2 separate regions of the Homo sapiens genome follow, and region 1 is linked to region 2. Evidence: fine-mapped expression QTL. A gene starts in region 2. The other region holds a variant in brackets. All regions are shown on one strand. Distances are between the middles of the regions. Region 1 overlaps LINC02456 (long intergenic non-protein coding RNA 2456). Region 2 holds the start of WASHC3 (WASH complex subunit 3).

Evidence for each region. PIP is the estimated chance that this variant, and not a neighbour inherited with it, causes the effect. A credible set is the group of variants that fine-mapping cannot tell apart.
Region 1: its variant is the best candidate, but not a certain one, in a credible set for the expression of WASHC3 in whole blood (INTERVAL, PIP 0.78).

Annotation. Positions count from the first base shown.
Region 1 is chr12:102,311,794-102,314,578 of GRCh38, reverse strand. All of the region lies in intron 4 of LINC02456 (long intergenic non-protein coding RNA 2456), which reads right to left. Among named protein-coding and RNA genes, the nearest start is that of LINC02456, 34 kb to the right of the region's middle. RefSeq lists an enhancer at 1,142-1,677. The variant C/T (reference allele first, on the strand shown) is at 1,255.
Region 2 is chr12:102,060,438-102,063,222 of GRCh38, reverse strand. It overlaps WASHC3 (WASH complex subunit 3), which reads left to right and starts at 1,232. Exons shown (of 7, transcript NM_016053.4): 1 at 1,232-1,311; 2 at 1,877-1,975. The coding sequence starts at 1,261. RefSeq lists enhancers at 1,314-1,513, 1,524-1,573.

The DNA of each region.
Region 1 (2,785 bases), 250 kb before region 2:
GTCTCCTTTCTTTCCTTCCCTCCACTTTTCCCTTTTGTAGCTTACTTAAAAGGTAAACTAAAACCTTTTATCTTTTAATATTACATAAAAATCCTTTTTAAAAGAGAAAAACAAATTTTATGTTCCCATTAGTGTATTTTTTATGTTAAAGCTAGTTTTTAATGACATTTTATAAATCTATTGTTTTAATTAGTTTGACCATAAGGTAAGATTTTCATAAACCTTTTATAACCCTTTACAACTTTTTTTCTCAGAGCAGAACAATGTTCTAAGAAAACTCTGTTGTTCTTCTATTCCAATGTCCAATTTATAGAAAAAAAATGAATAATGCCATTTTAACTTTAGCCAATACATTCACACATAGAATCTCTTGTAATTAATTTTTATAAACCATTCACAACTTGTTCTAACCTTTAGCTTTTTAATTCAAAATAAATCTTTAACCCTCTAACCTAGACAAAAATTTACATTCCCATACTTTCTTATAATCTCTCACAAAAACACATTTTATTCCCTTTACAAACCTTGTATGTAAACTTATTTTTTCAGTAGTCTCAATTACATATTAAAATGTTAACTCTTAGCATCTTTTACTTTTGGTGAAAACCTTGGTAAGGGATTTTAATTATGTACTAGGTGTGGAGCCTACGACCCAAACAGAAATGCAGATAAGATCTGAGCCTTTCCAGTGTCTAACTCCATGTGTCCCAGGCCTTACCCAGCTGTAGAGTAGGCAAGCTGTACAGTTAAGAGTCATAGTGGCATTTTATGAAGCATTTAGGAAGCCTAATCACCTTTAAATTGTAAAACGGGGGAAGAGCCAAGATGGCCGAATAGGAACAGCTCCAGTCTACAGCTCCCAGCATGAGCGACGCAGAAGACGGGTGATTTCTGCATTTCCATCTGAGGTACAGGGTTCATCTCACTAGGGAGTGCCAGACAGTGGTCGCAGGTCAGTGGGTGCACGCACCGTGCGCGAGCCGAAGCAGGGTGACGCATTGCCTCACTTGGGAAGCGCAAGGGGTCAGGGAGTTCCCTTTCCGAGTCAAAGAAAGGGGTGACGGACGCACCTGGAAAATCGGGCCACTTCCACCCGAATACTGCGCTTTTCCGACGGGCTTAAAAAACGGCGCACCACGAGATTATATCCGGCACCTGGCTTGGAGGGTCCTACGCCCACGGAGTCTCACTGATTGATAGCACAGCAGTCTGAGATCAAACTGCAAGGCGGCAGCGAGGCTGGGGGAGGGGCGC[C/T]CGCCATTGCCCAGGCTTGCTTAGGAAGCTCCAACTGGGTGGAGCCCACCACAGCTCAAGGAGGCCTGCCTGCCTCTGTAGGCTCCACCTCTGGGGGCAGGGCACAGACAAACAAAAAGACAGCAGTAACCTCTGCAGACTTAAATGTCCCTGTCTGACAGCTTTGAAGAGAGCAGTGGTTCTCCCAGCACGCAGCTGGAGATCTGAGAACGGGCAGACTGCCTCCTCAAGTGGGTCCCTGACCCCTGACCCCCAAGCAGCCTAACTGGGAGGCACCCCCCAGCAGGGGCACACTGACACCTCACAGGGCAGGGTATTCCAACAGACCTGCAGCTGAGGGTCCTGTCTGTTAGAAGGAAAACTAACAAACAGAAAGGACATCCACACCAAAAATCCATCTGTACATCACCATCATCAAAGACCAAAAGTAGATAAAACCACAAAGATGGGGAAAAAACAGAAAAGAAAAACTGGAAACTCTAAAAAGCAGAGCGCCTCTCCTCCTCCAAAGAAACGCAGTTCCTCACCAGCAACAGAACAAAGCTGGATGGAGAATGACTTTGACGAGCTGAGAGAAGAAGTCTTCAGACGATCAAATTACTCTGAGCTACGGGAGGACATTCAAACCAAAGGCAAAGAAGTTGAAAACTTTGAAAAAAATTTAGAAGAATGTATAACTAGAATAACCAATACAGAGAAGTGCTTAAAGGAGCTGATGGAGCTGAAAACCAAGGCTCGAGAACTACGTGAAGAATGCAGAAGCCTCAGGAGCTGATGCAATCAACTGGAAGAAAGGGTATCAGTAATGGAAGATGAAATGAATGAAATGAAGCAATAAGGGAAGTTTAGAGAAAAAAGAAAAGAAAAGAGCAAAGCCTCCAAGAAATATGGGACTATGTGAAAAGACCAAATCTACGTCTGATTGGTGTACCTGAAAGTGATGGGGAGAATGGAACCAAGTTGGAAAACACTCTGCAGGATATTATCCAAGAGAACTTCCCCAATCTAGCAAGGCAGGCCAACGTTCAGATTCAGGAAATACAGAGAACGCCACAAAGATACTCCTCAAGAAGAGCAACTCCAAGACACATAATTGTCAGATTCACCAAAGTTGAAATGAAGGAAAAAATGTTAAGGGCGGCCAGAGAGAAAGGTCTGGTTACCCTCAAAGGGAAGCCCATCAGACTAACAGTGGATATCTCGGCAGAAACCCTACAAGCCAGAAGAGAGTGGGGGCCAATATTCAACATTCTTAAAGAAAAGAATTTTCAACCCAGAATTTCATATCCAGCCAAAATAAGCTTCATAAGCGAAGGAGAAATAAAATACTTTACAGACAAGCAAATGCTGAGAGATTTTGTCACCACCAGGCCTGCCCTAAAAGAGCTCCTGAAGGAAGCACTAAACATGGAAAGGAACAACTGGTACCACCCGCTGCAAAATAATGCCAAAATGTAAAGACCATCGAGACTAGGAAGAAACTGCATCAACTAACGAGCAAAATAACCAGCTAACATCATAATGACAGGAT
Region 2 (2,785 bases):
AACCAATCAGACTGATTGTGGGCCACCACTTCATTTGCATGAGGAGAACACCAGTGTCCAATGGGAAATCTCTAGTGGGTATTTGGACCTAAGAAGATTCTGTATCCAGTACACTGTGGAGCGTACTTTGGTTTTCAATGAATCTTTGCTTTTGTTGGTTCATTCTCTCCTTGATTTGTGCGTTTTGTCCAATTCTTTGTTCAAAAGAACCTGGACACCCTCCACCAGTAACACTCTTACCTCATTTCCTACCATTCTCCATTTATGGGATTATTTGCTTCAACCAAACCAACAGGCCAGGTGCCAGTGGCTCACACCTATAATCCCAGCACTTAGGGAGGCCAAGGCATGAGGATCATTTGAGCCAAAGGGTTTGAGACTAAGGTGAGCTATGATCCTCACTGCACGCCAGACTGGGTAACAAAGCGAGACCCCCCATCTTTAAAACAAAACTGCCCACTGCAGTCTTGGTCTTCATCTTTTTGATGCTCCCTGTAAGTGGCAGTCACTTCCGTAGGTTTGTGCCTCACATCTAGTAGTTGACATTTTATTTCATGTTTTAAAAACCTTTGGAAGACCAGGCGCGTTGGCTCACGCCTGTAATCCCAGCACTCTGTGAGGCTGAGGCAGGAGAATCGTGTGAGGCTGAGGCAGGAGAATCGCTTGAGGCCAGGAGTTCGAGACCAGCCTGGGGAAATAGCGAGAACTTGTGTGTATACACACACACACGCTTTGGAAGTAGGTCTTATTTCTCATTCTTCAGGGCATAAACCTCTCCCGTGCAGCAATCAAACTCAATCTTTGTTTTCCCAGTAAAAGCCTAGCAGAGTATATGGCACTTAGGATTAACAACAACAAAAAAAAAATTGTTGCTCAAGGAATGACGGAGTTATTATATAACAGACAGGACTAAGTAGGGATAACCTCAAAAGGACGCAACTTCTGGCTTTGTTTTTTTGTTTTGTTTTGTTGCCTCCTTTCTAAGATTTCAGTGCTCTAACTGCATCCTTGCACCACCGCGCGCCACCCCGAAATTGACGTCACAATCTGGACTAAAACTACCAATCCCAGAATGCCGAGCGAGGAGGCGGGCTCTCCGGAAGCCGCCGAGTGATTAGTGAGCGGAGAAGCTTTCTTCCGGCGGGAAGGGCCCCGGAGGCGGGCACTTGGGGGGAAAGTTGAGACGTGATTACCGGGTTGGGCGGGCCCCATCTGGGAGGGGTTTGTGGGTGAACTCGGGGTCCACCGCCCGCTGAGGAGATGGATGAGGACGGGCTTCCTCTCATGGGGTCAGGCATAGACCTGACCAAGGTTTGTAAAAGACGGTGCTAGACTCCCGACGAGCCGGGAGGAGGATGGGGAAGACGCAGCTTTCCGGGGAGACACCCACCTTCCGAGTCCCCACCCTGTCACGGCCTCGGGCCCTTGTGACAGGCCTGTGGGGCCTCAGGAGGGAGAGCCCCACAGTCCACCTTGAAATGGGGTCCCTCCTGAGCTGATTAAGGAGACGGTGTGCATCTCCCAACTGTCGCTTCCCATCTCGCTTGTCTCTCTGCCGCCGGCGACACACGCCGGTTGCGATAGCTAGCCCTACCTCTTATTCAGCCCCCAAGATTTTGTGTGTGTTTATGTGTGGTGCTTTTTGCCTGCCAAAATTCGTACCAGTGAGTCTAGAGCCTGTTCTCAAACTTTTGTGCACCTCTGTCATCTTCGGACACCCCACCCACAGCTTAGGAAACAAGTTAATGACTATTCCCAGTCCTTCAAGAAATTCATATCACACAGCAAAGTGCCTCGTGATTATGTCCAAATATGAAAAGATTTGCACTGTGTACGTTCCTCCTGTATGAACCATGTTTGTTTTTACGTAACACAGGTGCCAGCTATTCAACAGAAAAGAACGGTGGCTTTTCTAAACCAATTTGTGGTGCACACTGTACAGTTCCTCAACCGCTTTTCTACAGTTTGTGAGGAGGTAGGTCCGGTGATACTGGTTTATAGAGTCGCCTGGAAATCACCTTTCACTGCTGAGACTGACAAATGGAGTAAAACAAGAATTACAGTCTTTATTCATGTACCGTGACCTCTCATCACCCAATTGTGTTAACACATCTTAGGTTCTCTTTTACTCTGTTAAAATCAATCCTGCACCCCTCCTCTACTGAGTTAGTGTTCTAGAGGTCCCTGTGAGATAGGTCAGTCAGGCTTATTGCGATTAAAGGGAACAATAGGAAATCTAATTTTTTTTTTTTTTTTTTTTTTTTTTGTGAGACAGGGTCTCACTCTGTCACCCAAGCTACAGTGCAGTGGCGCGATCTCGGCTCACTGCAACCTCCACCTCCCGGGTTCAAGCGATTCTCCTGCCTCAGCCTCCTGAGTAGCTGGGATTACAGGCATGCGCCACCATGCCTGGCTAATTTTTTATATTTAGTAGAAACGGGGTTCCAACATGTTGATCAAGCTGGTCTCGAATTCCTGACCTTGGGCGATCCACTAGCCTCGGCCTCCCAAAGTGCTGGGATTACAGGCGTGAGCCACCGCGCCCGGCTTCTAAAATTTCACAGTTGAAAACAGTTTTTATTTTGCAATTTGTCATTCGTTCCCGTACCCCAAAACCACATTGTTTAAATTTATTTTACATTCTGGATCTAAAAGATGGCTAGAGGAGATAGCCTAGAAACATAACTTTGGCATCAAATATGATTATAGAAATGAAAATATTTTCTGCAAATGACTTGTGATGTAAGGATTAAGTACCCAACTAGGGATTAGGTACCAGAACTGG